7 linked regions of the Homo sapiens genome follow. The protein of the gene in region 2 interacts with the protein of the main gene of each other region in a pairwise test. Each region holds a gene or a part of one and is shown on either strand. Other genes may lie near its edges. The genes, in order: DMRT3, RFX6, DGCR6, ESR2, PRKAA1, CYFIP1 and DTX2.

Region 1 (3,500 bases), on a different chromosome or scaffold from region 2:
TCCCAAAGTGCTGGGATTACAGGAGTCAGCCACCACGCCCGGCCAGCTCAACTATTTTTAAAAGAAATATATGAACCAAATAGCTTTGTGTTTTAAAAGGTACATCCCCTGCCCCCACTTTAGATAAGTTTCAAACACTGAAAACATATTAGGAAGTGTTTTCTCAGGTCTGTCAACCAAATTGACTCTTCCACAGTACACTTCAGTCTCCAGAAAAAAAGTGGATCAAACAGCAGAAGGCTAACTGAAAGGGGAATTAGGGAATGAGGTTCTCACTAACATAATGACTCTACCATTACAAAAATGGAGGCTTTTTTTTTTCAAGGTAGCAACAGATATACTGTCCCAATCAACTGAATACTTGATACCAGGATTACAAGTCTGACAATATAAAATTCCACTCTTGTACCTATTTTCCTAAGTTCTGCGGAACAGACGGTAGTGGAATCTTATGTCAGTGCCAGCTTGTTCAGCAATTGTGAACTCTCAGACTGTGAAAGTCACTTTCTCATTTTGTTGTGTTACCCTTTGCCCCTGCTACTGGGACATGCTAGTGCATCATGCACTTCTGGTTACTTGTCAAGGAGTGGTGATAGATTACACCGAATCCTCCATGCTCTCTCCGCAGGTCTCTGTGCCGTCTGGCTATAGCCAAAATATGAGAAAAGCTAACACAATGTCACAGGAATCAAATCTACAAATTCAGCGTAAACCAACCAACCAGCTGAGCTCAGCACTGCTTACACTGTGTTCAAAGGAAAGACAAAGATGATGAAAGAACAAGCAGAGCACACCTGTGAGGCTTATGCACCTGAGCCGCACACAAGGTCCTGCTAAGTAGTGCTGGGTGAGCCAAATCCCCATCAACATGTAAGGCTGTTGGAGTTTCAAAACTAGGCAAAGGAAGACTAGCCTCTAACTTTGCACCAAGAATAACTCCTCACCAAACAATAATTTCTGAAGGGCAGGATATATAGTTCCTGCAATTTTGTGGCGCTATGGTGTCTAGTACTGGTTGTATTATTGCACCTAAACTAAATATATTGTAAATTATTCTATTATAAATACAGACTTTCACAGGTAATTATAGAGGGTGAGTTTTGAGCCCAGTGATAAAGTGTAATTTAATAACAGGTACTTCTTTACATCTCCAGATTTGTTCTTAAATAAACTTTACAAATCATTCTAGTTGGTTTAAAACATAAAGGCCTTTCTAGACATAGAAATGTGAAACTGCCAACTAACAAAATAAAATAGGAAATACTCCTGAAACATTTTACCTTCTTTCTTCTTGAAACTGAAACCCTAATTCCTAGAACATTAAGAGTGTATATCAACTGATAATATTTTTACCCCGGTAGATGGGTATAGAAAGTCAAAGCTATTAAACAGGGAAGAAATCAATTTTATCGAATATGACAAATATTACTGAAAGTGATACAATATGCTGTTTCTATTGCTAAACATGTACATATTTTTAAAATCTTAATATTCTCTCTTCCATTTCATATTTCATGGGGTAGAAACACTTATAGCTATCCCTGAAATAAACTGTGCACTAGGGTAAAGAGGTTTTTAAAAGAAGTAGATATTCAATTAAAAAGAAAAGTTTTTCTACAGATAACAATGCTACCGACTTCAAAATATATATGCCATAAGATGACTACAATACTTTTTTTTCTTTTTTTGCTACAAGACTTTAAAGAGAGAAAATAAACACTCACAAAAGTGCTTTCAATCTAAAATTACAGTTTGAAAATGTAACTTTCTTTAGGGGAGTTTTTCACATAAAAATGCAATTTAGTAAAAAAAAAATGTATTATTTCAAATACTTTGAGAAAGTCTACCACATATGAGAAACAAACATTCTGCTCACGATGCATAAAAGTGAAAAATCTGGCTGGGCGCGGTGGCTCACACCTGTAATCCCAGCACTTTGGGAGGCCGAGGCAGGTGGATCACGAGGTCAGGAGATCAAGACCATCTGGCTAACATGGTGAAACCTCATCTCTACTAAAAATACAAAAAAAAATAGCCGAGCATGGTGGCAGGTGCCTGTAGTCCCAGCTACTCAGGAGGCTGAGGCAGGAGAATGGCGTGAACCCGGGAGGCAGAGCTTGCAGTGAGCTGCAGATCTCACCACTGCACTCCAGCTGCGGCGACAGAATTAGACTGTCTAAATAAAAAAAAAAAAATGTGAAAAATCTTTCTGACTTAGATGTCATAGGTTATATCCATTCTATCCAATTATATCTACGAAAACAAAATAGTTCTTACATACAGAATGAAAACACAGAAAAACTCGAGCAGAGAGGAATATTTCCTAGCTCAAAAGTCACTGGACTCCCCCATCCCTTTTGAAATCATGTCACGCATTTTGAAACATAGATTGTCATATCCTCATCTGTTCACTTGAGCTGTGGGGAACACACCTGTAAATAACAGGTCCTTGATGGGTAGTTTTCAAAGCACATAAATCTTACAACAATGGCAAGGGAGGGAGCCCAGGCAGGATGAGACTTTTACAGGAGACCATTGCCTAATCAGAATTCTAATCGTAGACAAACGCTTCACATTTTCTCTTACCTTCATCTCACACTAGAAGTGATGAATTATTTTAAAAAAATGAATAGTTGAAAATCTAAAGAACACCAGGGAATGATCTCGATCTAAAAACTTTCCTTTTCTTCCTGGGGTGGATTGCCGGGTTGGGGAGGGTTGTGAAAAGTTAAAAAAAAAAAAAAAACTAGCCATGCTTTACTTTTTAAAAAATCATTAACAACACTGAATTAATAACGTATGAAGGAATCAGAGTGGTTCCTTGACACTATATTTTGGGGGAATATTGCTATAGACAGGACTGGGCTGAAGGAAGTATGGTTTGCAACTGTGGACCTCACATATTTTGTAAAAAATTAGTTTTGATCTCTTTCTTGACTCAGAAGGGAATACCTTCCAAGAAGCAGAGGGGAAATTACCTACAAATCTACATGTTTATTTGGTACCTTCCAAAATGCACCTGTCTAACTCATCCATCTATTTAACAAATGCCCCTAAATGCCTTACTATGCTCTCATGTACTGTGCTGGGTAAGATCATACAGAGATGATCAAAGCATTGCCTCTTGACCACTGAGAGGCATACAGTTTACTAACTAATCTTTTGCAAAATTCCAAGTAAGCTGCAGTTGGTTATATTTCACAGTGAAATACAGCAAATAATTCCAAGGATAGCAGCTGGGCAGACCATGGTGTCTTCACAGGAGGAAATATTGTTTTAAATGCTTACATATAAAGATTATGGGTGCTAGAGATATATACTGAACTAAACAAAGTAATAATCAGTGGGAAAAACGTGGAACACTAATCCCAGCTCTGTAAAATTTATGTCTGCCTAGTTGTTGTAATCAAGAGATTGGAGATTTTGTAAAGAATTGATGTGCCGACTCTTAAGTTTTTCATTATTATTATTGTTACTTGGTACTTGATTGTGCCTTTTAT
Region 2 (3,420 bases):
AACCTAATCCTTAATACAAATAATATGAGGCTTGTCATAAGACTATAGGAGAAGCCTGTAAAGTTTATGGAAGTCTCCTACCACAGGCCAGGAACTTTACAACAGACCTTTCAGTGAAGACATATGGAAAAGAAAAAGAAACAGAGGTAGAAAGATAGATAGTGTTATCAAATTGTATTAATTTATATGTAATGATTCCTTCACTTCTGAATTAGGCTTTGCATCTAGCTAATCCCTGAACACTCATTGACTTTCAATGTATAAGAAAGTACTTGGTAAAAGACTGCTTCTAAATCTGAAAAGGTTCAAATAGTCTACAATTCACAATTTCTTTATATGTATAGGCATGGATATGATATGCAAATGTTTTTAAATTATAGTGTTTAACCACACTACTTGACTCCTTAATCTCATTTCCAAAGGAGCTGAGATTAAAGAGTAAATCCCCAGCATTCTTCAGAAACAGTACCAGCCCCAAGAGCACCAAGCCTTTAAAAATATTTCCATACATTATTTCTTTTATTCCTTTTAATCTTTTTTAAATAAAGAGGGGAAAGCACTTATCATCTCCATTCAGTTACATAGAATCGGAATGCTGCTATGTGACAGAAATCATCACACTAATGCACAGGAATTGAAGTCAAGCAACTTTGGTCTTGTCTGAATTGAATTAAGTCTTGACCTTGTAAACATTTCCGTTGGAGGTAGAACATACACATTTGACTTTTTGTCAAATAAGGGATAGTAAACAATGATTCTGAGATCCTAATAAATTAAAGGTATTGTAAAGGCATTAAATATACTTTTTAAAAGAAACCAAAGATAAAAAGGCACACAGATGTTTAATAAATTAGAAAGTGAAATGTAAATCTTCATAGTTGAAATGTTTGCATCTTCAGATCTTCACTGGTTTTATTTGATAATTTTGAAACTATGATTAATAATGAGCTCACATTTTAAACTCTTAGTGTGCATGACAAGCTCTGCAAGTATCTCCATTCACTATGGAGTTGTCCATAGTACCAGTGACTTTAAAACAATGTCAGCCACTGCATATTCATTTTTATTTACTCTTATGGAAGTCTGAGTGAATAATGATATTTGCACAGTAGAGATTTTTTTTAAAGTTTTAGCACCCCCTCCCACATTGGTGGTTTAAGTGCCTCCAGCTGCTGTTCCCATGAACACAGTGTTGATAGGTGGTAAAGAGGACACCATTTCTCTACTGCTTGTTCCATGGGAGTCCAGGGTTTCTTGAGCTGGATACTGGTTGGAAGTTCCATACATACATTGGGATGAGGAAGAAGGAATTGGGGTTTGCAAACTGGAAGCTGTAAGGGAAAATATAATCAGCAATTGAAAATTGATTGACATTTTCTTTTCTCTGCAAATGCCACTCATTTTAATACCCTGTATTTATTTTTGCACTTAGCACACATACCTATTCTAAATTTGAGTCTGTATGGTTTACCAGAGCAATCATTTTTTCTTCCATTTGTTCCCACTTGCTAGTCTCCCAGAAATTATTTCCTCTACATATTTCACAAAGAAAACTCCATTTCAACTTAAGTGCTACCGCCAAAATATATCCCCCAATCAACCTCCTCTTTCCATCTGCACTTTCACGGTTGTAGTTCAAACCACCATCTTTTCTCTCCTGGACCAACACAGCAGCCTCCTGACTGGTCCCATGATCTCCACCTTTGTTTCACCCACTCACCTTCCCGAGAGCAACCAGAATGATATTGCTGAAGAGTAGATCAAACTTTCACTCGTCTCAAATGCCATAGTGGCTTCCGATACCCTTGGAACATGAACCAAGCATCTTACCCTATGTAGATGGGCCCCTGATTTTTTATTTATTTTGCTCTACTCTCTCCTTCATTCAACATGCTTAAGACACACTGGCCTGCTCTCTGCCCATTGATTTTTTCAAATTTATTCTGATTTCAGCGGTTCTGCATTCACTGTTTCTTCTGCCTGGAACTCCTCCCTCAGATCTTCACATCTTTGCCTCCTTCTCATCACTCAGCTTTCAACTCAAATGTTTCTGCCTCAGGATTCCTTTCTCAGCTGTCCTACCGAAAGCAGCTCCTCCTTTACTGTCTGTCATTTTACTCTATTTAATCAGGTTCAGAGTACTTGACATTATCTTTTTAATGCATTTGCTCATGTATTTATTGCCTTACTGTCCCTCTACTAGAATGTAAACTTCTTACAGGCAAGAACTATGGCCTGATCACCACCATATCCTCACATCTAGAATGGGGTCTGGCTCCTAGTCGGTTCTCAATAAAATTCATTAACTGGCTCACTAGCCCTGTATTTCTCTCATATATGGTTGCTGCCTTCTTATTGCTGACATGACGTGCTCTCTGTCTAAGAACCAGGCTTTATACTTAAGAAATAGTTGAACTCAATTCTCCTTGCACTACTTATCCACTTATTCTATCCCCTCATTTTACCCTGCAGCACACTTTGTAATCTACTTGTAAGCCAGCTCTGATAAACTAAAGCTTAGACTCCACCCTACTCTTAACCTATGTTTCGTCAAAGCTTCCACTATCTCTTCAGGTAAACAGAACTAATAGTAACAATAGCAACACAGTACATTTTAGTCTCATGGTGAGAAAACTTCCTGAAGTGGAATTTTCTGCTTCATTAGAGTAACCTAGAAGCAATGACCATTTGCAGATAGCAGAAGATGAGCTGCTAGATTCTGCTCAGGGAGCATGTGTGACAGTGACAGGAAGAGAAGGAGTACTTCCTATTGAATTATTGGGAAGGTACACTGAGTGAGGAGAGATGAAATTGATTTCATTTTCCCTTATGCTCTGGTTGCGTGTCAATGCCCTCTACTTATGCTAGTCTGAAATCAATCTCATTGGAAGACTTTAACCATCTCATATAAATATTAACACTCTGCTTTGATACTTAGTGAATATATACTTGCCCTGTGAAATCTTATTAGTATTTTTAGAAACTAAATCTATAGTGACTAAATCTATGTTATTACTAATAACATACTAATTATTATTGCAGAATTTCTTCATAGATGAGGATTAAGAAATGTAACCTGGTTGGAAGAAGATTCCAGGAGGCTTCACGGCAAGCACACGTTTTTCTTATTTTTACTTACATGATATGTTAGAGAGCAATAAAAATGGCAACATTTTCTACAGAGGTGTTGAATCACATTTTACATAAGAATGAGAAAATGCTAGTAGCACCCATCACAGGACACCAGTTTTTTTTAATCTTGGAGTGATTTTTGGATACTGATGGAGATCATGAGGCCTAAAGATATCTCTTGGCACTACAACTGGGTCCAACACTAATCAAGAGTGAGAAAAGGATATTATTACTGCCCTTTTAAAACTTACAGTTTTAGACTGCATTTGACAGGTCATATTAATCTTT
Region 3 (3,269 bases), on a different chromosome or scaffold from region 2:
ACGTTTTGTTGTGGCCAGGGACCCCTCCTTCCTGGGGAACTGTAGCCATTTGGCACTTAATGCACTGGCGCCAGCTGCGGGGTGCTCCATGTTCCATTTTGCCATGATGGTTTATGTCCCATGATCGCTTCCTCTGTACACTCCCTTCAGACTAGAGTTTGCACATCTGTGTTTGTGCACAGTTTAGCAGGGACCGTGGAGCTTTGCTTGGTGGCCGAGGGTGAGCCCCTCAAAGCCACACAGACTCCCTGGCCCAGAGCCTCACAGGCTTATGACACCCCAGGTTCATCCCAAACTTGGGCCTCCCAGGTCAGCTCACCCTTCTCCCTCTGGTGCTGTGTAGGGGCTGGGAGCTGCAAATGGGGGAGGGGGCTGCCCACCCTGAAGGGCAGCACCAAGGGTGGAGGGGCCAACCACACACCTGGTAGGCAGAGGCCCCACGCTCAGGGTCAGCGACCCGGCTCCTCCTGCTCCTTTCCCATGCCTTTGCCTGAGGTGGTCTCCAACACTTGAGTAGATGTCCTATGGCCTGTGGCCACGGGGGCCCTGAAGCCCTCAGACTGCAGCCTCCCTCCCGCCTGCCCCCTCCAGCTGCCCTGGGTCTGGGGCTGCAGCTTTGGCCCCACCTGGCCAGTCTTCCCCACCCCCACTCTCTTTCAGTGCCCCGCACCTTCTGGAATCCCCTGGAGACTTGCCGTGACAGTGGGGTGGGAGGATGGAGGAGGCTGGCGTCCTCCCCAGTGCAGACACCCCTTTGGCCTGGCTGCTCTGCTGGGTTGGTAAGGCAGGTGCCCATGGGTGAGGGCTGCTGCCGAGTCCCACCGCCTGCTGACGGGCTCTCATCCCTCCCAGTGCTCAGGCAGGCGCTGCGGCAGAAGCACCAGGAAGCCCAGCAGGCCTGCCGGCCCCATAACCTGCCTGTGCTTCAGGCGGCTCAGCAGCGAGAACTAGAGGTACTGGGGACGCAGGCAGGGTGGCCGGCCCAGCTCTCCTGTGGGCACCACCTGGCTCTGCTGACTGGGCTGAGCTGAAGGGGTGTGGGGGGCTCAGGTGTGGGTGGCTACCCTGGGCCTGAGTGGGACACTGGAGGCCTAGTGAGTCCCACCAGGTGGCTCCTCGCTGAGGGTGCCAGGTGTGCTGGGACTGGGTGGAGGGTGAGAACCCACCAGTGCTCCCCTGGAGTCCATTAGTGCCCCTCGTGGGTTGGGGTCTCCGCAGAGCAGGTGGCCTCGGGGGGTACAAAGGCAATGGTGGGGTGATGGGGCCAGCCAGGAAGGGGCCCATCCTTCTCCCCGGGAGCACAGGGACAACCAGAGACCGGCATGTAACCAACAAGTCATGGGGCAGGGTGTGCCTGCGGAGATGTGTGTGTGGTCCCAAGGCAGTCCCAAGTCAAAGCATTCGTGGAAGCCCCTTGGGGCCCCCTTCAGGGGTTCACTTGGCCGAGGAGAGGCCTGGGTGTGGTGAGGATGCATTGGTGGTGTCAGAGCTGGTGCTGTTGGGGACAGCAGCAGGAGCATGTGTTTGAGCTGCCCTCACCTCCCCCGCCGCCCCCGGCCCCACGGCAGGCGGTGGAGCACCGGATCCGTGAGGAGCAGCGGGCGATGGACCAGAAGATCGTCCTGGAGCTGGACCGGAAGGTGGCTGACCAGCAGAGCACACTGGAGAAGGCGGGGGTGGCTGGCTTCTACGTGACCACCAACCCACAGGTCAGTGCCTGGGCCTGCTCTGTCCTAGCCCGAGTGCCCCTGGGCCCCATTCCATCTGGGATTTCACTGCTGGTCCCTGGGGAGCCAGGCTCAGGGTATAGGGGGTGAAGTGGAAGGATTGAGGCTCTGGAAAGGATTTCTGTGCCATTCCCAGCATGGAGGCCAGGCCCATTCCCTACAGGGGGGTGAGCCAGCCAGCCATGGGCACTGCCCACCCTCCCCAGGCCTGCTGTGCCCCACAGGGCCCTCTTCTGCTCCCCTCCCGCATGCCATTCCAAGTGGCCCTGCTGGGTGCAGAGGCTCAGATTCCGAGTGGCCCTGCTGGGGGCAGAGGCTCAGATTCCGAGTGGCCCTGCTGGGGGCAGAAGCTCAGATTCCACCCTGTCGTAGCAGGCCATGACCAGGCTTCACAGGATGGTCGCCCCGTGGGCTCACTGCCTGGCACCTTTGGGCCGGGATGAAAGGGGCCTGGGGGTCACTCTGGCCTTCATGGGGCCCCTCTGTATCCCAGGAGCTGATGCTGCAGATGAACCTGCTGGAACTCATCCGGAAGCTGCAGCAGAGGGGCTGCTGGGCAGGGAAGGCAGCCCTGGGGCTAGGAGGTCCCTGGCAGTTGCCTGCTGCCCAGTGTGACCAGAAAGGCAGCCCTGTCCCACCATAGCCACAGGCAGCAGAAGTCTGGGCAGAGTTCATCTTCTTGACCTTTGGCCACTGCCTTCCCAGCTGCCCGCAGGGGGTTCCCCCTGCTGAGGAGAGACCAGGTGGACCCCAGCTGCCTGTCACCCTTCATCTGGGACTTGCTGTCAAACCCTAGGATAGTCTCATAAAGGGGAGGCTGGGCCAGCCTGCTGCTGTCTGCTTCAGGGCCAGGCAGAGAGTGAGGCTGGGGGTTCTCACACCTTACTCCACCGGGCACATCCCAACCTGCACTGGGGCCCACTCGAGCGCTTGTTCTGGTCTCAGCCGCTCCCTTGGCAGCTGCAGCCCCCATGCAGAAGAGGCTCCCAGGCCCAAGCTCTGTGTGACCCAGAGAAATAAAGATGCCTCAGTGTGGCCCGCATGTGGCTTGTGTGATAGCTGCAGGTTCTGCCATAACCGGGGCCCTGGTAGGGCCCCCACCTCTGTTGCAGCAGAGGCCTCTACCTGGGGGCCCCTTCCTGGGCTGTGTGCCCAGCCCACCACCCCTCCCCCTGCCTGGAGACTGGGACCCTCCAGCCTTTCCTGCCCCAGCCCTGGTCCCAGGATGCTGTCACTGCCATCTGTACAGGGGCCCCCATCCAAGCCCCAGGGCATGAGGACCACATCCAGCCTGCTTTGTGGGGCTGGGGGCTGGAGAGCATGGGAGAAGGCCCGAAGTGCAAGTATGCGCCTGCCGCAGCCTGGTCAGTGTCCTGTGGGAACCACTAGGAGGAGCCTGATGCAGGTCACTGGGGTAGAGGACTCAGGGTGGCAGGAATGGCCTGAGGAGGAGCCCTGCGGGGAGGCGTGCCAGGCCCACCTGGGGAGCTTGGCCTCTGCATCTGCATGAGTCCCCTCCGTGCTGGCCTGGGCCCATGGGCC
Region 4 (3,500 bases), on a different chromosome or scaffold from region 2:
AGTTTTAGTAACCCTTCCTTCCACCGCTATTGCCAAAAATGCTATATAGTACATGCATTAGAATGTGTTAAAGCAGATCGGGCATGGTGGCTCACGCCTGTAATCCCAGCGCTTTGGGAAGCTGAGGTGGGCAGATCGCCTGAGGTCAGGAGTTCAAGACCAGCCTGGCCAACATGGTGAAACCACTTCTCTACTAAAAATAGAAAAATTAGCCTGGCATGGTGGTGGACACCTGTGATCCCAACTACTTGAGAGGCTGAGGCAGCAGGATCACTTGAATCCGGTAGGCGGAGGTTGCAGTGAGCCAAGATTGCACCTCTGCACTCCAGCCTGAGCAACAGAGAGAGACTCCATCTCAGAAAAAAAACAAAAAACAAAACAAAACAAAACAAAAAAAAACAAAAGAGTGAGTTAAAGCATGTGAAAATAAACTTGGCACATTTCTAAGAATTTTATCACCTGTCCAGAAAGCTCCAGATATAATTGGTCACTATAGGTACAAAAAACAGCAGGACAACTTAAGATTATAACCTGAAAATGGAATTTTTAATGGAGAAAAATCTGTGTCGACTTATACACATAGTGGCCACATACCTACGGGATACAGTCCCCTATTAAAGCGCTGGCCTGTAAATGCTGCTGCACCACAGATTAAAAATGAGTCACAGGACCCTGAATCCTTGGACCCAACTCTCTCCTTCTCTGGTTCTTGACCCAGTGAAGGAGCTGATGATGCTATCATCCTCTGCCCTGCAAGTGTGAGATTTTAATTGCAGCACCCAGGACTTTGTTCCCACTCACTAAGCACCTTACTCAAACAAGTCAGAGAAGAAACACAATGTATTTTTTCTCACCTGTCCAGAACAAGATCTGGAGCAAAGATGAGCTTGCCGGGGTGGTCAATTGAGCGCCACATCAGCCCCATCATTAACACCTCCATCCAACAGCTCTCCAAGAGCCGCACTTGGTCGAACAGGCTGAGCTCCACAAAGCCTGGGGAAAGCAAGAGGCGGTGAGACACCCCCACCCCTCCTCCTCAGCTCCCTGTGTGTGTAGAGACAGAATGGCAAGTGTTAAAACACTAAGAAAACACAAACCATTAGGGAGTTGATATTTTATAGATGTGATTAACTGCTCATTAAAGGAAGAAAACTTTGAAGTTAAGCTGCGCAACTTAGTTTCCAGTCTTGGACCCCTTCTAGAGACAAATATACTTCATTTAGAGTTTGTCAAGCACTACGACCTCGGCTCAGAACTGATCTTTGTTAGCTGTGTCCTGATAATTCCTCTGCACTACTGAGAATGTTGATGCTTGGCTGCCAGTCAGAAGACCTGCCTGTCTGACCCAATCCTTGACTGGGATCAGAAGGGGTGGGGGATGGGGTAGGTGGGGGATGGGGTAGGTGGAGGTTGGGGTTGGAGGCTTGCAGAGAGCAGTGCCAGCCCTCACAGAAAACCAAGGCCTCAACTGCAAGGATTTCTCTGATTGATTAAAATTTCCTATCCAGTGTTAAGATCCTTCTTCTGGGTAGAAGCACTGTTTCTGGGTGATTCTATCCTAAACAGCAAATATAGCCAAGCACACCTGTAATCCCAGCACTTTGGGAGGTCAAGGTGGGTGGATTGCCTGCACCCAGGAGTTTGAGACCAGCCTGGCCAACATGGAGAAACCCCATCTCTACAGAAAATTATCTGGTCATGGTGGCAGGTGCCTGTAGTCCCAGATACTCTGGAGGCTGAAGTGGGATGATCGCCTGAGCCCAGGAGGTCGAGGCTGTAGTGAGCTGAGATCACGCCACTGCACTCCAGCCTGGGCAACAGAGCGAGACCCTGTCTCAAAAATAAATAAATAAATAAATAAATAAAGAGCAAATATAATAACGAAGCAGGTCCTGACAACCTAATAACCCATGTTGGTCACAGTACTGTTTGCAAACAGGTAATCTCTGGGGAGGGAAGCACTTCAAAAGCAAAGCAGAGAACACCGGGGCTTCCTTCACAAGCCATGATAAAAAGAGAGGGCCATGTAATATAAATATGATAACAAAAGACACCGCCTTGGAGTGAAATGGACTCTGGTTCGAACCCCAGCTCAGCCTCTTTCTAGCTGTTCACTTAATCTCCCATTAAGTCTTTGTTTTTCTTATAGGAAAATGGGGGTAACAATGCCTATCTCTGAGAATGTCTTATAGGCAGGATCTCTTATCATTCTTGTTTTACAGATGAGGAAACTACAGCAGAGAGAACACACATGGTTCAAGTCTTTGAACAATTATAACGCAAATCTGCCTCAAGGAGAATGTAATGGTGTTATGAATGTAAAGATGGATAAATACTTTCTAAATCCACATGCTTTGCTCAGTTTAGGTTCCTAATGTGTATATACCTTCCCAGTCTCACCCATAGTGATTGACAATAAGCCTACCCAAGAGAGATCACGGTTCTTAATCTTGTAGATATTCAACAAGATCAAGGCTAGATGATATTTTAATATATATTTTTTGGTTTGGACAATGACTATGCCAGCTAAGAGAGGAGAAAAAAAATCACGCCTTCAGATTATGTCTACGTTTCCTGAAAACTTTTCAAAACACCAGGCTTGAATAAGGAATAATGCAGTTTAAGAGTTCAGATTTCTTATGGCACAAAGAAGGTGCACAGCTTTCAGCAATAATTAATTTCACCACTGCTCTCCATGTGTGGTCCTGCAAAATCGTGTTTGGAATACATTTAAAGCAAAAACTAGAGGAAAGTGCATCAGTATTGCCTCCCCTGGGAAAAAGCAGAGAAAATAAAATAATTCTGGCAAAGGTGAAGATGCTAGACAAAACAAAATACAACTAGAAACCAAAAATCCTCAGGAAGCTCAGAAGAAATGGGCCCAGGCCAACAAAAGTCCCCAAATGATACTGTCACCATAGGCCTCAGTTCCCCAGGCTCTTTACCCAAAACTTCTCTTCCCCCAGCTTCTCACCCCTCCTCATCTTTACAGCTTGCCCAGTGCAGTCGCTGCCCTCCAGGCCATGGGAATGCCCCCAGTGGCTCAGAACTTATAAGAGACTTCATTTCTTCAAGGACTGTAAAGAACAGCATGGAGAAGCTGTCACAGGGGGATCGTGGGGTGTTGCCACTCTAGGTTAGAATCCTAGATTCACTCCTCCACAGAAACACCAAGTCAAATGATAATTAGCTGGTAATTTTAGCATCATACAGCACTTCAGATATATATTACAAATGGGCTTGAGAGAAGTGATCACTTTGGAGGATGGAAAACGCAGGTTCCAAGTGACAACTCATGAGTAACTAAGCTCATTTTTAACTTGATGGCATTCCAGGTTTATGGGCCCATTGATGATTCGTGTAACTTCAACCACTGATTTACTCTGTTTGTCCATACATATTCATTTATGTACATAATATTGATTCTCTACTGGAACAATAATTTACAAAATTCTATTTAGCATCTGACAAACCTTTCACTTTCAAACTAGTCATACTGT
Region 5 (3,500 bases), on a different chromosome or scaffold from region 2:
AAAATTTCAGAAAATAAGAAACTTTTGAAATAGAAAATACGGGTGCTGAAATTTTAATATTCAACTGGTAAAACTGAAGAAATACCCACAAGGTAAAACCAAGAAATAAACAACAACAGAAAAGATAAGAAAAATATATATCAATTGTGCCTGTTTCCCATTTCTCCAGGCAGAATTTTTTTTTTTTTTTTTTTTTTGGTAAGGAGAAGCAGGAGTAAAGGGGAGTACCTGAAATAGAAATGAATCATGTTAAGAAATAGTAAAATCAAAATTAACTTGGTTAATAAGTTTGATTTTGATAAAAGTAAATAGACATGCTATATAGAACAAATGAATGAGTAATGTAAATAACTTAAAATTGAGAGAAAAGCTCTCTTTTCAGGGCTAGCTACAGCTCTCCCACAAAGGGGCTTTTGCATACCACATAACCTGGGTATGAGAAAAAGTATGGGCAGAGGGCAGTGTTGAGTTTTTGTATCTGTAACTTAAGGTAGTGTTCAAAATGTCCTACAAAGTTCCTTCCAGCTGTAAATTCTTTATATCTAATTCCTACCTCCTTCGTGGAGCCTGTTTTTACTACTCCAGGTACATCAGATTTCTGAAACCAAAAAATGAATGCAATTTAAATGTGGCTAGAATTGACTAGCAAGGCCTAGATCTTTAAGTAATAATAATATATTTTGTAACGATTAATTACATTAAGATACATATTCAAAGTATTTGTATACCCTGGAAGCATAAGTCTGAGGATTATGAGTTCTGGGGGCTCAAGCCAATTCCGTCATTAATAAATCACGTTACTGTGAGCAATCATATAAGCCGCGAGGCTCAGTATCCACATCTGTATAAACAGGCTAAGGAGATAATCTTTAAGATCCTTTCTAGTTCTACATAGTTTATGATTCTAAACAAATATATGACTAAGGGAACTGGTTATTAAATAGACCTCTTAAAATTGGTTGCTGACATTTTGATGCTAGTAAAGGATAAAGGGGAGTTACAAAATACATACAGAATTAAAGCAGAACAGCTTACCCTTCCATTCTTACAGATATAATCAAATAGCTCTCCTCCTGAGACATATTCCATCACCATGAAAATATCAGATGGTGTACTGATGACCTGGTACCTGGTGAGAGAAAACATTGTCTACAAATATTAAAACACATATATTCATTCATTCAATAAATATTTACTAAGCACCTATAGTATACCAGGTACTAGGCTAGGAGCTAGAAAAACTGCAGGAAACAAAAATTCTCTGCTCTCATGGAGTTCATGTTCCAGGAACCAGGAAACAGACACTAAATAAATAAGCAATATCTCAGGTGGTGGAACATGCTATGAAGAAAAATAAAGCAAATGAAGGGGAATCTTTGTATACAGAGTGCTAAAGGAAAGCCTCTAATAAAGTAACATTTGAGCTGAGCCTAAAAGAAGAATGGGAACAAATTATGTAATTATCTAGGAGGAAAGCGAAACTGGGAGAGGGAATAGCAACTGCAAAGGTCCCCAAGTAGAAGCCTGCTTGGCATGTTCGAGGAATATTAGAGAGAAATAGGATGTAGAGTCAAAGGTGTTAACTGCAGGCCAGAAGACACAGAATTTTACAAGCCATGATAAGGCTTTGGCTTTTACTCCAAGGAAGATGAAAAGCTATCGTACGTTTTAAGCAGTCATGTGATCTGGCATATTAAAAGTAAAACTATGGCAGCAATGTGAAGAATTAACTGTCAACAGTAAAGGTAGCCACAGGAGGTTACTTCAGGATTTCATGAGACAGATGGTGGCTGAGACCAGGTTGACAGCAATAAAGGAACTGAGAAGCAATCAAATCCTAGCTTGATTGTGAAGGAAGAAATGAAATGCATGGTAGAAAGTGAAAGAAACAGGGAAGTTAAAAATGGTTCCTAAGTTTTAGCCCTGGGTCATTGGCTGTTAGCCAAGATGGTGAAAACTGTGGGAAGAGCAGGTTTGGGAGAGTAATAAAGAGTTCATTTTGGGCCGGGTTGAGTTTTAAATGTCTTGCGAACATCCAAATGGAAATGTAAAGTCAGCAGTGAGCAAATAAGTCTGGTGTAAGAAGAGATCTTAAAGCAAGAGATGTACATTTAGGGGTGGTCAGCATATGGATGGTATTTAAAACCTAGCACTCAACAAATGAGAAGAGGTAAGAGTGAAACAAGTTTGAGTCAGCCAGTTCAGGAGAAAAACCTAAGCATCTTTAAGTTATTGCCTGCATAACAAAGCAGAAGCTGAGCAGGAAATAGTTATTTGTAGACTCTATAACTGGCAACTGTAAAACAACAGTAAGATTACTGCCCTTTTGAAACCTTGGATTCCTGAAATTTTGTTATCTATATGTTCAGGTATAAGCAGGATGGGGAAAAACCCTTTCTACTACCGCATTCTCACTAGTGAGGCTAACTGACATCATGTGGGCATTTGGAGGTCAAGAGTTTTTACTAGCAGATCACTGTTGGTTTTACAGCAATGGGGCACCAAACATTACCAGAAGAGCATCTTTCCAGGAGACAGGAAAGAATGAGAAGATAACAGCTGATAAGCACAAGGGCAAAACATGAACACAGGCTTAAATGACCATCAATGGGGTTAGAAAAATACATGAATGGGAAGAAACTTTTATTTTTTTTTGGGACAGAGTTTCGCTTTTGTTGCCCAAGCTGGAGTGCAATGGCACGATCTCAGCTCACTGCAACCTCCGCCTCCCAGGTTCAAGCCATTCTCCTGCCTTAGCCTCCCGAGTAGCTGGTATTACAGGCGCCCACCACCATGCCCAGCTAATTTTTGTATTTTTACTGGAGACAGGGTTTCACCATGTTGGCCAGGCTGGTCTCGAACTCCTGACCTCAGGTGATCCGCCTGCCTCAGCCTCCCAAAGTACTGGAATTACAGGTGTGAGCCACCGCACACAGCCTAGGAAGAAACTTTTCAAAACCCTTAGGAAACAAAAAGAAGTGTCAGTCATTTTTCTCACTTGTCACATTAAGTAGGTTAACAAAAAAGATGAAAAGATGACTGGACTATATTTAATATAAACAGAGCTTACAGTTTAATTATATGAGGATGCCTGAAAAGCTTGAGGTTCTGAATTTCTCTGCGGATTTTTCCTACCACATCAAGGCTCCGAATCTTCTGTCGATTGAGTATCTTCACAGCTACTTTATGCCCAGTCAATTCATGTTTGCCAACTGTAAAAGAAGTAATTTAATAAATTAGTACTAAGTATGATTAATAATATATTTACACATATTCTGGCCCGGTGCAGTGGCTCATGCCTGTAATCCCAGCACTTTGGGAGGCCGAGGCGAGTAGATCACTTGAGGTCAGGAGTTCGAAACCAATCTGGCCAACATGGCAAAACCCCATCTCTACTAAAAAATACAAAAATTAATGGCCGGGAGCGGTGGCTCATGCCTGTAATCCCAGCACTTTGGGAGGCCGAGGCGGGCAGATCACCTGAGATCAGGAGTTCGAGA
Region 6 (3,500 bases), on a different chromosome or scaffold from region 2:
CAAAGCCTTCTAAAGACTCAATGCAATCCCTTTGAAAATTCCAACAGCACTTTGTTTTTGCAAAAATAACCCATTTTAAAATTCATAGGAATCTCCAAGGACCCAGAATAGCCAAAGCAATCTTGAAAAAGATGAACAAAGTTGGAGACTTCACTCCTTTTTATTTCAAAACTTACCATAAAGCTACAGTAATTGAAACAGTGTGGCACTGGCATAAAGAAAGGCATACTGGCCAATTAAACAGAACAAAGAACCCAGACATAAACCTTCACATATGTGGCCAAACAATTTTCAACAATGATGTCAAGATCATTCAATGGAAAAAGAATAGTCTTTTCAACAAATTGTGTTAGGAAAACTGAATATCCACACATACATGAATTATGTTGGACCATTACCTTATATAATATACAGAAAAGTTAATTTGGCCTGGCGTGGTGGCTCACTCCTGTAATCCCAGCACTTTGGGAGGCCGAGTCGGGCAGATCACAAGGTCAAGAGATCGAGACCATCCTGGCTAACACGGTGAAATCCCGTCTCTACTAAAAATACAAAAAATTAGCTGGGTGTGGTGGCGGGGGCCTGTAATCCCAGCTCCTAGAGAGGCTGAGGCAGGAGAATCGCTTGAACCCGGGAGGCGGAGCTTGCAGTGAGCCGAGATTGCGCCACCGCACTCCAGCCTGGGCGACAGAGCAAGGATCTGTCTCGAAAAAAAACCAAACACACACACAAAAAAGAAAAGTTAATTCAAAACAGATCAACGCCTAAACATCGGATCTAAAACTATAAAACTCTTAGAAGAAAACAGGAGAAATGCTTCATGACATCAGATTTGGCAATGATTTCTTGGATATGACACCAAAAACACTGGCAACAACAGAATTAATAGACCAGGTGCTGTTGCTCACATCTGTAATCCCAACACTTTGTGAGGATGAGGTGGGAGGATCACTTGAGCTCAAGAGTTCAAGACTAGCCTGGGCAACACAGCTAGACCTTGTCTCTACTAAAAAATAAAATAAGGCTGGGCGTGATGGCTCATGCCTGTAATCCCAGCACTTTGGGAGGCCAAGGCAGGCAGATCGCTTGAGGTCAGGAGTTCCAGACCAGCCTGACCACCATGCAGAAACCCTATCTCTGCTAAAAATACAAAATTAGCCAGGCGTGGTAGTGGGCGCCTGTAATCCCAGCTTGAGTAGCTTGAGGCTGAGGCAGGAGAACTGCTTGAACACGGGAGGCAGAGGTTGCGGTGAGCCAAGATTGCGCCATTGCACTCTAGCCTGAGCAACAAGACCAAAACTCTGTCTCAAAAAAAAAAAGAAAAAAGAAAAAGAAAAGAAATAAAATAAAAAGTAGCTGCACGTGGTGGCTCACACCTGTAGTCCCAGACACTCAGGAGGCTGAAGTGGGAGGATCGCTTGAGCCCAGGATATCAAAGCTGCAGTGAGCCATGACTGCACCACTGAACTCCAGCCTGGGTAACAGCCTAGGTAACTCATCTCAAAAAATAAATAAACAATAGATAGTACCCAAAGCAATCTACAAATTCAATGCAATCTACAGGTTCAATGCAATCTACAGATTCAAAGCAATCTACAGATTCAATGCAATCTACAGATTCAATGCAGTCTCTATCAAAATACCTACCATATTCTTCATGCAAATAGAAAAAGAAATCCTAAAATTTGTGTGGAACCACAAAAGACTTGGAATAGCAAAAGCTATCCTGAGCAAAAGAACAAGGCTGGAGGCATCACACTACCTGACTTCAGAATATACTACAGAGGCTGGGCATGGTGGCTCCCGCCTGTAATCCCAGCACTTTGGGAGGCTGAGGTGGGCGGATCACCTGAGGGCAGGAGTTCGAGACCAGCCTGGCCAACATGGTGAAACACCGTCTCTGCTAAAAACAAAAAAATTAGCTGGGTGTGGTGGCGCACGCCTGTAATCCCCAGCTACTCAGGAGGCTGAGGCAGGAGAATCGCTTGAACCCGGGAGGCGGAGGTTGCAGTGATCCAAGATTGCGCCATTGCACTCCAGCCTGGGTGACAGAGTGAGACTCCGTCTCAAAAACAAAACAAAACAAAAAAAACTACAGAGATATAGTAACCCAAACAGCACACTATTGTCATAAACACAGACACATAAACCAATGGAACAGAATAGAGCCTGGAAATAAATGCATGCATTTGCAGCCAACTGATTTTTAACAAAGGTGCCAAGAACACACAATGAGAAAAGGATAGGTTCTTCAATAAACGGTGTTGAGAAAACTAGATACACACATACAGAAAAATAATATCAGACCTTGGCTTCTCAACATAGACAAAAATCAACCCGAAATGAATTAAAGACTTAAATGTGGCCAGGTGCGGTGGCTTAGCCTATAATCCCTGCGAAGCCCAGGCAGGGGGATCACCTGAGCTCAGGAGTTTGAGACCAGTCTGAGCAACATGGTGAAACCTTATTTCTACAAAAAAACACAAAAATTAGGCGGTGGCTCACACCTGTAATCCCAACACTTTGGGAGGCTGAGGCAGGAGGATCACTTGAGGTAAGGAGTTTGAGACTAGCCTGGCCAACATGGTGAAACCCTGCCTCCACTAAAAATACAAAAATTAGCCGGGCATGGTGGTGCACACCTGTAATCCCAGCTACTCAGGAGGCTGAGACAGGAGAATCGTTTGAACCTGGGAGACAGAGGTTGCAGTGAGCCAAGATCGCGCCACTGCTCTCCAACCTGGGCGACAGAGTGAGACTCCGTCTCAAAAAAACAAAACAACAACCAACCAAAATTTAGCCAGGCATGATGGTGCACACCTGTAGTGCCAGGTACTGGAGAGGCTGAGGTGGGAGAATTGCTTAAGCCCAAAAGGGCAAGGCTGCAGTAAGCCATGATTGCCCCACTGCATTCCAGCCTGGGTGACAGAACGAGACCTTGTCAAAAAAAAAAAAAAAAAAAAAAAAGGGAGAAGAAACTCCCTAACCATTAGCAGTTATTCTCACTTTTTCTACCCGTTCTTCACTGATCCTCTCTCCCCTGCTTTCTGGCCCCAGGCAATCACCTGTCTACTCTCTGTCTCTGTATATTTGCCTATTCTGGACTTTCCCCCTTGTATCTAACTGTAAATGTGTATCCTTTGACCAACATCTTCCTCTCTCCCCTTCCGCCAGCCACCCCAGCCTCTGGTAACCACCATTCTGCTCTGTTCTTCTGTGGCATCAGCGTTTTCAGATTCCACATGTGAGTGAGATCGTGCAGTACTTGTCTTTCTGTGCCTGGCTTATTTTGAGGAAATAAAGCCTCAAAAGCAAAGGCCACAAAAGAAAAAATAGACAAATGGGATTACATCAAACTAAAAATGTTCTGCACAGCAAAGGAATCAATCAACAAAGTGACAATCTACAGAATGCAGGAAAATATCTGCAAACCATATAACTAATAAGGGATTAATAATGAAAATATACAAAGAATTCAAACAACTCAATTGTAAAAGATC
Region 7 (3,500 bases), on a different chromosome or scaffold from region 2:
CTGTGGGGACAGAAGCGGAGACCAGCCACCAGCCTGGGCAGCAGAGCCGAGGTGGGCAGGGTGAGTTGCAGTGGCCCTCAGCAGGAGACACCAAAGCGTGCATCAGAGGACAGAGGTTTGAGCCCGGGAGCTCAATGCCCCCAACATCCCAAGCTTGTTCCTGGGCTCAAATGCGGTTCCTGTGGGAACTGAATGTCGGGTGGAGAGAAGGACAAGCGGGCGCGGGTGGCAGAGAGATGAGAGAGGACAAGGACAGGTGCAGTTTTCCTCAAGAGAATCTGGTGCCTCTGCGCTGCCCACGTCGTCTGGGAGGACCAAAGGCCAGGACACGTCTCCCTACCCAGGGTTCTCCGGCAACACTGCCTCAGCGGGCAGGCCTTCCCTGAACACTGCCTGACGGGGCCTGTCCCTCCAAGCCTCCCGCCCCACCCTGCTGGACTCCTGCTTTGCACTCCCCTCTGTTTCTATGGACTGTCTTCCCTCAGCACGAGTTCCACGAGGTCCCACCCGTAGCTGCATCTCCAGCACCCCGCTGGGGCAGTGCCTGATCCCTGGGAAGCCTGCAGCCCTCTGTGTTTGCTGAGGAATGAAGACATCCTTGGGCCACCACCAGCCCCCAGGAGGCCGCATGAGTGACACACGTGTCCTTTTCAATGCAGGACCCACTCCCCTGAATTCAAGTCACAAACACACAAGTTTCAACCCAGAAGCCTGGAGAGGAGGAGGGCTAGGGACAGCCCCCCAAACTCCTGACAGCCCCCAAAACACCTGAATAACTCGGAGGGCCACAGCCTTTTTCTCCACCCATCTGGGAGGATTCCCGCTGTCAGAGCCCTGAAGAGTGAAGCCCCCACTCACTGATTCTCACTTCCAATTTGCAGACACCCCTCCTTCTGACACCCAGGGCCAGGGCTGAGATCCAAGCCTCTCCTCTGTGCGCTCTGACCTCCCCAGCCTGGGTTCGAGCCCAGTGCCAGCCCTCACCAGCTGAGCAGTCCTGGGCAGGCTGCTGACACCCATCCCTGCCCCAGGCAGCAGTGTGAGCTGTGGATGGACCGCTGCTGTGACCAGGTGAGGGGTGGAGACCCTGGCTCCAGCCTCACAGTCCCTGCCCCCACCCGATAGAGGGACTGGGCTATGCCACAGCCAGGGGAGCTGTCACCTGGAGGCACTGTCACCTGGAAGCAGTGCCTCCAGCACTCAGTCCTTCCAAAGCATGACCTCCTGGTTATAAACCTCTCTGCAAAAAGCCTGTGCGCAAACGCTCGTCTCCGCAGCCGGGCATGGTATAATTCCTCAACCCACAAGCACACCAGGGTGACAGGACACTGCTCTCCAGCTCTGGCTCCGGGGTGCTGGCCAGGCTCCTCTCATTCCCTGCTCCCCTAGACAATGCTCCCCCAGTAGGTACCAACACTGGGCCTTGAATTGGGGGAGGCAGGAGTCTACACAGCCTCCAGGCTCTCCTATTTCCTTAGGCCTGAACCAGCTTCCCGAATCTATTTCCCCACAAGTAAAATGGATGTTAAAATACCTGCTTTAGCTCCAGGATTGCTCTGAGAGCAACGGGGACAGACAACAGGATGGACAATTTGGGACACAGCCTGGACAGGACCTTCAGCCTCAAGAGCAGAGGAAGGGGGCAGGTGCTAACTCCACACCCAGAGCACTTAGATCTGTGTCATGGCCTCAGAGGTCGCTCACTGTCAGGCCTGGCCACGAAGGCTTGCGAGAGCCCCAGAACTGGAAGGAGCTGGGCCATGAGGAACCGTGTGGGGGCCCCGTCTGTTTACCCACAACCTGTCTCCAATGCCACCACGGCCGCACATGCACACACGGTACACTGTGATTTCCCTACGGCGCCGCACGGTGACTTCAGTGGGCAGGGACTTTCTGGCCAGTGTGTCTTGCTCATTCTGTCTCCCCTGCCCCACTCCAGCTCCTCTCCCTCCTGCCCCCACCTCTCTGGCCGCTCCTTCATTTTCTCTTCAGTCCTGCCCACGGTCTCTGTGGCACACACGCTCCCACGAGGGGTCAGGGGCACCCCATTCCACCCAAGACTGCTCTTCTGAGGCCCACAGCCAAATCCCACTGCCCCGGAACAGCTCCAACGGCCACTCCACAGCCATCACCCCCTCCCAACCTCCCCCTAGACTCAGCAGCACTGAACCGTCATAGGCAAGAAGGCCCGGGGCTGTGTCTCAGCTCTGCCAAGGGCTGGCAGAGAATTTTTAAATTCTCCGAGCCTCAGTTTCCTCTAATGAAAATGGGAACAAAAGCCTCCACCTCAGTGATTTAAGGACGAAATGAATTCACACACGCCAAGCCCCAGGCTGCTCCTCAGTTGTGACTGGCTGCACTCCAGCAGGCCTCAGTCTACCCCCAATCCCCCCTCACAACCCCCCGCCTGACGGCTCATGCCTCTGAATGTTTCAAGCCAAACCTCCCCCTCCACTCCACTGCCTCGAAGCTGGTCAGGCCTTGGCTGGTGCCCCCAGGTCTGAGGTCAGGCTCTGCACCAGCCGCCCTACCTCCAGGCCTGTCCCCTCTCAGCCACTATGACAGCAACTCCCCTAAAACACCAACTCATTATTGAATTCCGCCACATCACCCTGTGAACAACGATGGCGCCATCCACCTCCTTACATACCTCGAACTTTCCAGAAGTTAGAAAATAACCTCAGCTGGGCGTGGCAGCTCATGACTGGAATCCCAGCACTTTGGGAGGCCAAGGCATGAAGACGGCTTGAGCCTGGGAGTTCAAGACCAGCCTGGGCAACATAGTGAGACCCTGTCTCTACAAAAAATAAAAAACTTCCCTGGCATGGTGGCATGTGTCTGTAATCCCAGCTACTCAGGAGGCTGAGGCAGAAGGATCGCTTCAGCCCAGGGGTTGGAGGCTGCAGTGAGCTATGACTACACCACTGCACACCAGCCTGGGGAACAGAGCAAGATCCTGTCTCTTATAACAAGAAAAAAAAAATGGCCAGGCACGGTGGCTCATGCCTGTAATCCCAGCACTTTGGGAGGCCGAGGCGGATGGATCACTTGAGGTCAGGAGTTCAAGACCAGACTGGTCAACATGGCGAAACCCCATCTCTACTAAAAATACAAAAATTGCCCGGGCGTGGTGGCATGCACCTGTAATCCCAGCTACTCGGGAGGCTGAGGCAGGAGAATTGCTTGAACCTGGGAGGCAGAGGTTGCAGTGAGCCGAGATCCCACCACTGCACTCCAGCCTGGGCGAGAGAGACTCCATCTCAAAAAAAGAAAAAAGAAAAAAAATCCTGCCACCTGTGGAGCTTCTGAAAACCCTGCTAGCCAGGCTGCTAAAACAGAATGGGTGTGGGGGCCAGCAGTAGGTATTTTTAAGGATCCTTAAGGTGAAAGGATTGCTTGAGCCCAGGAGTTCAAGACTTCAGTGAGCTGGGTTAGCGCCACTGCACTCCAGCCTGGGTGACAGAGCGAGACTCTTGTCTCACAAAAAACCAAACCAAACC

What was found.
Region 1: the proteins of RFX6 (region 2) and DMRT3 interact in binary tests that used the Homo sapiens proteins (3 or more experiments, as listed by UniProt).
Region 3: the proteins of RFX6 (region 2) and DGCR6 interact in a two-hybrid assay, tested with the Homo sapiens proteins (one large-scale study listed by BioGRID).
Region 4: the proteins of RFX6 (region 2) and ESR2 interact in a two-hybrid assay, tested with the Homo sapiens proteins (one large-scale study listed by BioGRID and IntAct).
Region 5: the proteins of RFX6 (region 2) and PRKAA1 interact in binary tests that used the Homo sapiens proteins (3 or more experiments, as listed by UniProt).
Region 6: the proteins of RFX6 (region 2) and CYFIP1 interact in a two-hybrid assay, tested with the Homo sapiens proteins (one large-scale study listed by BioGRID and IntAct).
Region 7: the proteins of RFX6 (region 2) and DTX2 interact in binary tests that used the Homo sapiens proteins (3 or more experiments, as listed by UniProt).

What each region holds. Positions count from the first base shown.
Region 1 is NC_000009.12:983,155-986,654, reverse strand, and holds part of DMRT3 (doublesex- and mab-3-related transcription factor 3), read right to left. Parts: intron 1-3,500. UniProt on the Homo sapiens protein: Probable transcription factor that plays a role in configuring the spinal circuits controlling stride in vertebrates.
Region 2 is NC_000006.12:116,929,242-116,932,661, reverse strand, and holds the end of RFX6 (DNA-binding protein RFX6), read right to left. Parts: intron 1,332-3,420; coding exon 1,156-1,331; 3' UTR 501-1,155; downstream 1-500. UniProt on the Homo sapiens protein: Transcription factor required to direct islet cell differentiation during endocrine pancreas development. Specifically required for the differentiation of 4 of the 5 islet cell types and for the production of insulin.
Region 3 is NC_000022.11:18,909,320-18,912,588, forward strand, and holds the end of DGCR6 (protein DGCR6), read left to right. Parts: intron 1-660; coding exon of another isoform or gene 661-779; intron 780-852; coding exon 853-953; intron 954-1,568; coding exon 1,569-1,709; intron 1,710-2,220; coding exon 2,221-2,370; 3' UTR 2,371-2,769; downstream 2,770-3,269. UniProt on the Homo sapiens protein: May play a role in neural crest cell migration into the third and fourth pharyngeal pouches.
Region 4 is NC_000014.9:64,256,372-64,259,871, forward strand, and holds part of ESR2 (estrogen receptor beta), read right to left. Parts: intron 1,045-3,500; exon of another isoform or gene 994-1,044; coding exon 855-993; intron 1-854.
Region 5 is NC_000005.10:40,774,375-40,777,874, forward strand, and holds part of PRKAA1 (5'-AMP-activated protein kinase catalytic subunit alpha-1), read right to left. Parts: intron 3,213-3,500; coding exon 3,071-3,212; intron 1,130-3,070; coding exon 1,036-1,129; intron 599-1,035; coding exon of another isoform or gene 554-598; intron 1-553. UniProt on the Homo sapiens protein: Catalytic subunit of AMP-activated protein kinase (AMPK), an energy sensor protein kinase that plays a key role in regulating cellular energy metabolism.
Region 6 is NC_000015.10:22,970,369-22,973,868, forward strand, and holds part of CYFIP1 (cytoplasmic FMR1-interacting protein 1), read right to left. Parts: intron 1-3,500. UniProt on the Homo sapiens protein: Component of the CYFIP1-EIF4E-FMR1 complex which binds to the mRNA cap and mediates translational repression. In the CYFIP1-EIF4E-FMR1 complex this subunit is an adapter between EIF4E and FMR1.
Region 7 is NC_000007.14:76,492,709-76,496,208, reverse strand, and holds part of DTX2 (probable E3 ubiquitin-protein ligase DTX2), read right to left. Parts: intron 1-3,500. UniProt on the Homo sapiens protein: Regulator of Notch signaling, a signaling pathway involved in cell-cell communications that regulates a broad spectrum of cell-fate determinations.